Linked DNA regions of Homo sapiens: region 2 is linked to region 1. The links come from fine-mapping of genetic effects on gene expression. Tissue or cell type: cerebellum. Region 1 holds a variant in brackets; the other region holds the start of a gene. All regions are shown on one strand. Distances are between the middles of the regions. Region 1 overlaps ATP2C2 (ATPase secretory pathway Ca2+ transporting 2). Region 2 holds the start of WFDC1 (WAP four-disulfide core domain 1).

Region 1 (5,371 bases):
CTGTGCCTTGGGAGAGAAGGATAGAGAAGCCTTGGAAAGAAGGAAGCATCTGCCTGAGTGTGGCTTATTTGGGTGTGTGTCTCCAATGTCACCCTTGTCAGGAAGCCCACTCGATTGTTTTGTTCTTGTGTCATTCTGACTCTTGCATTGATTCTCTCCAAAGGCATCGATCCCAATAATTACGTGCCCTATATTGTGAAATTCTTTTTTTGTTTTGTTTTATTTCTGTTTTTGTTTTTTGAGATGGAGTCTCGCTCTGTTGCCAGGCTAGAGTGCAGTGGTGCAATCTTGGCTCACTGCTACCTCCGCCTCCTGGGTTCAAGCGATTCTCCTGCCTCAGCCTCCTGAGTAGCTGGGGCTACAGGTGGGCGCCACCATGCTCGGCTAATTTTTGTATTTTTAGTAGAGATGGGGTTTCACCATGTTACCCAGGATGGTCTCAATCTCTTGACCTCGTGATCCACCCAAAGTGCTGGGATTACAGGCATGAGCCACCGCGCCCGGCCTATATTGTGAAATTCTTGAAGGATTGGGGCTGGAGGATTCACTAGGCCCAGGGTTCTTTCTCTGCCTCTTCTCTTTCTCTGAAACCCCCAGGGGCCAAGTGCTTTCCACAACCTAAGGCATTTGGGATTCCCACATGAGCCGTTTTCTTGTTCTTCTCAGCACCTTCATGCCTGTTCTTCCCTCAGCCCAGAAGGCCCCTCATTCCAGTACCTCTCTCAACTGCTTTCTCACAATTCCTGGGTGCCTTTCTAGATTCCCCGCGATCTGCACTGGGGCCCGCCCATCTCCTTCGTTGTTAGCTGCACCCCAGGAGGGCGTGACCACCACGCGAGTTTTGAGCATCTCTCGGCTTGTTCATGCCTCTGGTGTCGTCAGATTTACACATGACACACAGTCATGGTTGAATTTCAAACAATAAGTGCACGCTTGTCCCATGCGGTACTCGTGTATACTGGAAAATCATCTGGTGTTTATCTGGAGTGCAAAGGTAACTGGCATCTGTATTTTCGTTTCTTAAACGCGGCAGCCCTCTTCGGGCCCCTTGGTGTCCTCTAAGGACGAGGACTCCTGCTGTCCCCACCTCTGGTCACCGCTGTCACCCTAAGGCCCTCAGTGCTCCCTGGTGCTGGGCTCTGTGCTGGGAACTTCACTCTCACTGTTTCCTTTTTTTTTTTTTTTTTTGAGATGGAGTTTAGCTCTGTCACCCAGGCTGGAGTACGGTGGCGCTATCTCCGCTCACTTCAACCTCTGCCTCCTGGGTCCAAGCAGTTCTCCTGCCTCAGCCTCCCGAGTAGCTGGGACTACAGGCATGTGCTATCACGTTTGGCTAACTTTTTTGTATTTTTAGTAGAGACAGGGTTTCACCATGTTGGCCAGGCTGCTTTCGAACTCCTGACCTCTAATGATCCACCCACCTCAGTCTCCCAAAGTGCTGGGATTACAGGCCTGAGCCACCATGTCCAGTCTCACTTTCCTTTATCCCACGGCAGCCCTGTGGACCCCGGCTGTTATACCCTTAGCCCCCCACATTCCAGGGGAGGAAACTGAGGCACGGGCTAGGCTTTGGTCAAATATGTTGAAGCAATGCATGTCTGCATAAGCCCTCTAACAGGGAAGATCATTAGGGTCTAACGCAGTCCAAGTTCGCAATGAACCGAATCCCGGGGCTGGACGGGAGGGCGCCACAGCGGGGCTGGACTGAGGGAGGCTGTTCGCCCGGAGGTGCCGCTGGCTCCCTTGCTCTGGAGTGAGCTCACAGCTCCAACTCACCTTTCAGCAAGGGCCATACGTGCACTTCGTGGTCCCCTCGGGAGCCTCTGGTAGGTTAAACGTCAGTCCTGAGCTGCGCTTGTTGGGTGCAGCTTCTCTTGGAAACCTTTCTCTTCTAGGCCGTTTCCTTGGGGCTAGGGAGGCTGCGCTCACCGTCGCCCGCGTGGGTCTATCTGCAGCAGGCAAATAACATCTTGGGGGTTCCAAAGGAGGCACAGACACAGAAGATGGATGTGAAGTAGGCGGGACCGTGACGTCCATAGAGACAGGAAGCAGATGAGTCGTTCCGGAGGCTGGAAAGGGCGTGGGGAGTGCCTGCTTCCTGGGCACAGGATTTTCCTCTGGCGGGCGGTGAAAGTGTTTGGGGATGAGCTCCACGTGGTGCCTGCACAACATTGCAAAGGTACTAGATGCACTGAACTGCATGCTCTAAAACAGTTAATTTTTTGTTATGTGGATTTCATCTTATAAAAAGCTTTAAAAAGGGAAACACAAAAGAAAAGGGGGCCGGGCGCGGTGGCTCACGCCTGTAATCCCAGTACTTTGGGAGGCCGAGGTGGGCGGATCACCTGAGGTCAGGAGTTTGAGACCAGCCCGGCCAACATGTTCAAACCCCGTCTCTACTAAAAATACAAAAATTAGCCCGGCGTGGTGGTGGGCACCTGTAATCCCAGCTACTCGAGTGGGTGAGGCAGGAGAATGGCTTGAGCCCTGGGGGCAGAGGTTGCAGTGAGCCGAGATCACACTGCTGCACTCCAGCCTGGGTGACAGAGTGAGACTCAGACTCAAAAAAAAAAAAAAAAAAAAAGAAGAAGAAGAAGGGAAGGTTTGGTTCTGCCTAAATCACCTGTGATGGAGAGGGAGAATTAGGGACACTCTCTGACCTTTACCAGGATGCGCCACTCTCATTACAAAAGGAACACTTGCGATTCACAGTGGACTGATGTCTACAAAGTAACAAGAAGCTACAGCCTCGGACCCTTCAGCCCCACAGCCCCGGGGCAGCTACTGCCATCTCTCGCATCTTCTGTGGACGCACATACATGCTGTTATGGTCAAGGCGTGTCCTCCCAAAAACATGTTGAAGCCCTAACCCCTGGTACCTGTGAATGCAACCTTATTTGCAAATAGGGTCTTTATCCATGCAGTCAAATTAAAATGAGGTCACACTGGAGTTGTGTGGGCCCTAACCCAATGACTGGGGTCTTTATAAGAAAAGCAGACAGAGACGCTTGGGAATATAGCCATGTGCTGGCAGAGGCAGAGACTGCTGTGATACGT[A/G]CACATGCCAAGAACGCGGAAGATTGTCAGCCACCGCCAGAAACTGGGAGAGGAAGAAAAGATCTTGCCTGCAGGGTTCAATGGGAACGTGGCCCTGCCAGCATCTTGGTTTCAGAGTTTTAGCTTCCAGAACTGAGAGAACAAATTTCGGTTGTTTTAAGCCACCGAGTTTGTGTTGGTTGTTTGTTACAGCCGTGGAGACCAAGCAGCCATGGGAAACTCACACACAAAGTTGAATTGAAACTGTTTCCAAGTTCTTTTATGTGACTCCCGTTCCCTCCCCTCCCTTCATCTTTCCTTCCTTCCTCTTTTTTTTTTTAAAACAAAACTAGGATTATATTACGACGATTGTTCTGCAAAAGGTTTTTTTTTTAATTTGATGACATATCAGTGACGTCTCCTTAGGTCAAATCATATAACACCTCTTTTCTCTTTAATTTTATACTATTTAATTTTGTATTTTGTATTGGAGAATTCCAATCATATGCAGAAATAGACAGAATAATGGAATGAGCCCACATGACTCTGTTACCCAGTGCCAATGAGGGGAGCCAATCTTGACTCCTGTCTACCCCAGATTGTTTTGACACAAATCTCAGGCTTCCTAGCATTTCATCTATAAATATTTCTGCATATCTATGGCTAAAGAGAAGAACTCTTTAAAATATCACAATTACCATTATCATATCATAAAATATTAACAATTAGAGAAAATCAAATATTGGCCAATATTGAGGTTCCCTTGGGCTCCTAAACACTGCTTCACGCTGGTTTATTCAAATCAGGACTCAAGTGAGGTCCCAGCCTGCACTTGGCTGGGGTCTCTGATGGTTCTCTGCGTCTGCACGTTTCATCCTTGTGTTTTTCGTTTTGAGATGGAATTCTGCTCTTGTTGCCCAGGCTGGAGTGCAGTGGCGTGATCTCAGCTCACTGCAACCTCTGCCTCCTGAGTTCAAGTGATTCTCCTACCTTAGCCTCCTGAGTAGCTGGGATTACAGGTGCCCGCCACCACGCCCGGCTAATTCTTATATTTTTAGTAGAGATGGGCTTTCACCATGTTGACAAGGCTGGTCTCGAACTGCTGACTTCAGGTGATCTGCCTGCCTTGGCCTCTCAAAGTGCTGGGATTACGGGCGTGAGCCACTGCGCCCGGCCCATTCTTGTGTTTTTGTTGTAGTTTACATGCTGGGGAGGCCGGGCTGTGTGTCCTACAGTTCCCACAGTCTAGTGATCATGTCCCCATGGTGTCATTCAACGTGTCTATTATCTCCAGTATTTCCTGTCAACTGGTGGGTGGGCCTAGAATGGAGGCTTGGTGCAACTCAGGAGATGTGTTTGGCTGCCTGACAGCGTAGGTGCATCATGGCTGATCAACCTTCCTCACGATTTACCCTGAGTTTGTTTCCAGTTTTTGAGTGCCTCAGCTTCAAGGTGGGCCATTCTGGGTCATGGCAATGTCCTGATCAGCAGCGGGCACGGGCCCACTTGGAGAGAAGAAGTGAGTGTGTGTTTGGGGTTGGGTAGAGGGATGGGGGCCGTACCAGAGTCTGTAGTTTCTGGAAACAGAGTGGACAATCCTGTTTTCAACAAAGGATACATTAAGTGCCATTTAGATTATGGAGCTGTGTGATTGGAATCAACCCGGGGCAGATTAGGCCCCCGGGCCCCTATGCATTCTTAAGGAGATGAGGGGGGTGCCCAGGTAAGCATCCCAGGTAGGAGTCTCCCAAATGCAGGGCGAGGAGTGGCAGCGTCCACGAGCTCAGTCACCAACCCAGGGACTCTGTTTCCTGACTGTCACGAGACTGGACTGAGGCAGAGCAAGCCCTCACTTACAATGTATTGGGTCCAGGGCTATGTCCCGGTGGCCTTGAAACACCGAAATGACCTGGAGATCTGGCTGAAGTCGGTTGAGAAGTGGATAGGAAATGAAAAGATAGAGACAGCAAGTATAGACACTCCTTCTAAAAGCTCGATGTTGGCAAATGAGGAAGGAGCAGGTGTATTTCCAATGCAAGGCCCAGAAAAGAGGTTATGTTTAAAGTGGAAACCCATGCTGAGATGTTTATGGGAGGAGCCAGCAAAGAGGGGAGGAGGATAGAGGATGGGAGGCCAGTGGATGGGAGGCTATGGGTGTGGGGGGAGTGGGGGTGGAGGGGGCTGTGACCGACACAGGTGGGACCCAGGAGAGAGTCAGGAGGACGGTTTCTAAGTGGTGGACGGAGTTCCTGCCTGTAGCTTGTAAATGGCTTTAAAAAAACAAAAAGGCTAGGCATGGTGGCTCACACCTGTAATCTTAGCACTGTAGGGGGCC
Region 2 (5,371 bases), 96 kb before region 1:
TGTTGGCAGAAGTGAGGCCACCCAGGGAGAGAGAGAGAGAGGCAGGAAATGGGCCAAGACTGTAACATCAATGGGAAACGCCTACATTTTAAGGGGAAGGTGGAGATGGAGGATGAGCAAGAACCACATGGGAGGCGTTAGCTGCCTTAGGAGAGCGCAGGGCCCCAGGTTCCAAGCAGCAGGAAGTTTCTCAAATGGAACCTGGGCCAAGGTTCCGCTCTGCCTGGAGAACAGGGTGCGGGTGGAGGAGGCCCAGGAGGCGGTGCCTCAGAACGCTCATCTCCTAACAGCAAGCATGTGCTGAGCCTAGATCCTCGCCTAAGTGCAGCTGGGCCTCATGGCAAACCTGCGAGTAAGTTCTGACTCCATACCCCTGTTTTACAGATGAGAAAACAGAGGCAGAGAGATGGGGCAGGACCTGTTCCAGGTCGTCCTGGTAAGTAGGGGTAGCAGCTCCATCATGTCCGTGGGTGGCTCCTGGCTTCTAAATAAGCAGCCTTGCCCTGCAGGGAGGGGCATTGAGACTGCGTCCCATAAAGCTGAAAGAAGAGGGAGTGGAGCACGCTGGACCATGCCCCCATAAGGGCTCAGCCAGTAGTTTCTGGATGAAGAAATGAAGGAATATTCTAGAATCTAGGGCAAGGTAATGATCAGGGCTGGGCCTAGCGGGAGGCAAAGGAGGCATCTAGGGTCTAAAATGTAAAAAGACTCTCACGCTTGGGCTCCTGGGTTTACAGGACTCTGATGGTGAACTTAAATTTTGCATTGCTCACTGGGCAAGTGTCTTAACCTCTCTGTGCATGGGATCCTAGACAGCACCTGCTTATAAGGCTAATATGAGACCTAAAAGCATTAAAATGCAGGAAGTGCTTCAAACATTGCCGAACACACAGACTGTATGGCTTTTAAGGTTTTTTTTTTTTGATACAGGGTCTTGCTCTGTGACCCAGGCTGGAGTACAGTGGCGCCATCACAGCTCACTGCAGCCTCAACCTCCCACGCTTAGGTGATCCTCCCATCTCAGTCTCCCAATTAGCTGGGACTACAGGTGTGCATCAGCACGCCGGGCTACTTTTTTTATTTTGTATTTTTTGTAGAGATGAGGTCTCACTATGTTGCCCAGACTGGTCTTGAACTCCTGGGCTCAAGGCATCCTCTGCCTCCCTAAGTGCTAGGATTACAAGTGTGAGCCACCGTACCCGACCTACACAGACTATATGTGTTTGCCACTATTGTCATTCACTAAAAGGCCAAGAGGGGTTGATGATACCTGCCCAGGGCATTCTGAAGGCTGTGCTGGCCAGGAGGTGGGGGGTGAGGGTCCCCAGGGAGGGAGGAACCAATCTTTCTGGAGCACTCACTCTGTGCAAGTGCTGGGCACAGCTGGCACCCTCTCCTGTAGCCCCACATCGATCTCAAGAGGCAGAGACTTTCACATGCCCATTTCACAGATGAGAGAACTGAGGACCATGAGCAAGAGGCTTTCCAGCATCTCGCAGAGGCTGAACTGGGATCAGGCAGGTGCGTCAAGCCTAGTGCTTGGGTCCCTTCTGCTTCGCCTAGGGGGGTGCCACAGGGTCTGACCTACCTGGGTTCCAGCCTCCTCTCTGCTGCTGTTGCATGACCTCAGGCAGCCCCCTCTGTTTCCTCATCTGTAAAGCGGGCATCAAAACAGTGTCTGTTTTGGGGCCGGGTGTGGTGGCTCACACACCTGTAATACCAGCACTTTGGGAGGCTGAGGCGGGCAGATCACTTAAGGTCAGGAGTTTGAGACCAGCCTGGCCAGCATGGTGAAACCCAGTCTCCACTAAAAATACAAAAATTAGCCAGGCATGGTGGCACATGCCTGTTATCCCAGCTACTTGGAAGGCCGAGACAGGAGAATCGCTTGAACCCGGGAGGCAGAGGTTGTAGTGATCTGTGATCACACCACTGCACTCCAGCGTGGGTGACAGAGCAAGACCCGTCTCGAAAAACAAAACAAAACAAAAAACCAGTATCTGTCTTGGAAGTGCTGAGAACAGACAAGGGAATATGAAGTTTGTGAAATGTTGAGCCCGCTGTGCTACATTCCTGTAAAACACACACGTGCACATGCACACCCACGTGCACACACGCATACACATAAATGCACATGTGCAGATACACCGGCTGACAGTGACAGCACACTTATGTGTGTGAAATGCTTTATGTGCTCAATTTCTTTTAAATCTCACAGGAAACACACGCTATGAGGAACTACCCACATGCCCACATCAGGCAGGAGGACCCCGGCGGGTGCAAGGGTGGAAGTCGTCTCTTCATGGCTGCACCCTTGGCCAGTGCCAGTCCAGCAGCCTCTTTCAAAGAAGCTTTTATAGGCAGATAGTTTGTCAGCCCAGCTCGAAATGTGAACAAGGTAGCAGCCGAGCCCCCACCCATCCGGCTGCACTCCCCTGCATGTCCAGCCCCGAGCCCTGTGTCAAGCACACCTCCTTGGGAGGAGACCGCCCCAGCCTGCAAGGAAGTGCTCATTATGGAGAGTGGAGAGTGACAGGCCACTCCCGGCCACGTCTCCAAGCAAGCCGGTGCCCCCTCCTCCTGCTGCCACCGCCCACTGAGCTGCCTGGGCTGCAGACGCCCTGGTTGGAGCGTCTGGGGCCAGATGTTATAGGGCAAGCTAAAAATAACCGGGCAGGCCAGCCACCATCGAGGAAGGGGCATGTGCTGGACGCGGACACATGATCCGAGGGACCCTGCTGGGTGGAACTAAGAAAGTCCAGCAGACTGTGCACGCTCCTGTCCCCACTCACAGGCCCACGCAGCGAGGGGGGCCCCTCTTCTGTGTGCGTCTGGAAGGTCGCTGCCCAGGGAGGAAATGCCTTTAACCGGCGTGGGGCCGGGCAGCTGCAGGAGGCAGATCATCCGGGCTCTGTGCCTCTTGCTACTTCTCCTCCACGCCGGCTCTGCCAAGAATATCTGGAAACGGGCATTGCCTGCGAGGCTGGCCGAGAAATCCCGTGTAAGTGCCTGGGATGGGGAGGCTGGGGCAGCCTGTGTGGGTGGGAGTCAGCCTTGAGGAGAGGCGATCCCTAGACACTGCCTTCTCCTGTAAGTGCTCCCCCAAAACGTGGCAAGGCAGGCGTCTTCCTATCCGTGTGTGTCTGAGTTGTGTGGTGGGCAGATGGGGCTCACCCCCAAAAAAGGACCCTTATCTGTGAATCAAGAGGCAAAAGACACATCACAAATGTGCCAAAGAATCGTGCCTTACTTTTGCCTTGTTACAAAAGTATGCTTGCTCCTGAAAGACAGCATCTCATTTCGGAACCCCAGGATTTAAACGGAGCATTCCGTCTCCCTGATCAGTACCAAATGTTTGTGAAATACACTTATGCATTCATGTGGTTGTTTATTCATTCAGCAAACAGAATGAATACACTCTGTTAAACAGAATTTAGCAGAAACCGCTCTGGGGAAGGCACTCTGTGGGGTCCTGTGGATACAAGATAAAGGAGGTACCAGCCCCCATCCTCAAGGGTGGCGTGGCCGAGGTGCAGAGGCAGTTGGGTGACAAACGATGGCAGTACAAAGAGAAGGCATGAGGCAGTGAGTGGCAAGAAACACATGCCCTGGGGCCAGATGTCTGGGTGTGAATCGGGCTCTGCTGCTCATTAGCTGCGTGGCTTCTCTCAGGCAAGCTGCTTGACGTCTCTGAACCCCAGCAATCTCATCTGCAAAAGACAGAGGGATGCATTTCTTCACACAACTATGTCTGGGTCGCCACTGTTTACCAGGTACTGTCCTAGGCTGTGGGGATACAGGCCTCACATCTCTGCCTGGGGAACTCAATGGGGGGCTGGGGGCAGCAAAGAATAAATGAGAGAGATCTCATTTATTAGTATGTGCAGATTGCAAGTGCTGAGGAAGCAATAAAGCAGGAAGGGAACTAGGAGAGAGAATGGGGTGGAGGAGGCTATCATTTTTGGTTCCTCCCACCCCCCAGAGATCACAGATCCGCAGGGACGGAGTGAGCCAGGACGATATCAGCACACAGAGGGCTCAAGAAGGTAATGCTGGCACCCACAGCACCTGTGTGAGGATTGAATGTCTCAGTATGTAGAACGTCTTTGCAACATAGCAAGCTGGCAGTGCATCTTGGCAGCTTTCAATCAAATAATTGTGACTTTGTTTGGTGTTGCCTAACAGGGTAGCATGTAGGTTCCTTGGGGTAGGGCAGGGTTCTGTTTCACTAATGTGTGCCCCTGGTGCCTGCCATTAAGTTGACGCCTGGTACATTCTTGTGGGTGAATTATGAGCGGCTGCAGTGGTAGCACGGGATGCGTGTGCAGCTCTTCCCCAGGAGAGTCAGACAGGGTTTTTAGGGTTGGGGACAGTGGACCTGTGGCTTTAAAGGATAAATAGGAGTTTGCCAGCTGGAGAAGAGGGAAGGGAGAATGATTAATGACCCCAGGCATAGTGGGGTGCCTGAAACTGTATTGAGACAAATCTGGGCCTCCAGGGCTCATATTCTCCATGTTCGGCACATGCTCGTGGCGGGAGACAGGAGGACTTCGAGAAGTGGAAAGAGTAGTAGAGTGACATGATGAGGCGCTTGGAGAAGGGAAAGCTCATGTGAGATGGTGTAGTCACCTAAGGCTTCCTGGAGGAGGTGGAGACCTTGACTGGATCTTGGGGAAGGATTAGGAATTAGGAGGAGGAAGGAAATTCCTGGAAGAAGGCTCAGCATGAGCCGAGGCTCACAGGCAGAAGTGGTGCATCTAAGAGCTGCTTGGGAGACCAGACCTGGCCAGAGGGGAGGCATTGAGGAGGGGTGAGAGACTCTTCTCAGATTTTATTGACTCCTCCATGCTCTTCTCTGGTGCAACAGGATGATTTAACCCTCAACTGTAGTTAGTAGCACTTTGGTTCTACAACCATAGAGAGATTGCCAATATGTCATCTGATTTTATCTCCACCATGTCCCAAGATGTCATAGGAGCCAGCACTGTGACATCCACATAGGAGGGTCAGGGTTGATATGCGCGGGGGATTTGGGGGAGTCTCTAAAACACAGGCCTGGGTGGGCTGCAGGAGCTGATTCACTTGTAGCCACCACTGGTCAGGATGCAAGTGCTTTGAATTGGCTCCTCGCTGAATTGAAACTTTCCCTGGTTATCAACAGATATTGGCCTCCTTCCTCAGCGCCTAGACATAGGTGAGGTTTATGCAGAACAACTGTGCCAGCCAGGCACGGTGGCTCATGCCTGTAATCCCAGCACTTTGGGAGGCCGAGGCGGGTGGATCACCTGAGGTCAGGAGTTCAAGACCAGCCTGACCAACATGGTGAAACCCCATCTCTACTAAAAATACAAAATTAGCTGGGTGTGGCGGC

Evidence for each region. PIP is the estimated chance that this variant, and not a neighbour inherited with it, causes the effect.
Region 2: WFDC1 starts here. The variant in region 1 is fine-mapped to the expression of WFDC1 in cerebellum (GTEx, PIP 0.99).

What each region holds. Positions count from the first base shown.
Region 1 is chr16:84,388,551-84,393,921 of GRCh38, forward strand. All of the region lies in intron 1 of ATP2C2 (ATPase secretory pathway Ca2+ transporting 2), which reads left to right. Among named protein-coding and RNA genes, the nearest start is that of ATP2C2, 23 kb to the left of the region's middle. The variant A/G (reference allele first, on the strand shown) is at 3,058.
Region 2 is chr16:84,292,115-84,297,485 of GRCh38, forward strand. It overlaps WFDC1 (WAP four-disulfide core domain 1), which reads left to right and starts at 2,764. Exons shown (of 7, transcript NM_021197.4): 1 at 2,764-3,001. The coding sequence starts at 2,858. LOC124903734 reads left to right here. Exons shown (of 6, transcript XM_047435022.1): 4 at 385-436; 5 at 1,403-1,521; 6 at 2,219-2,724. The coding sequence ends at 2,724.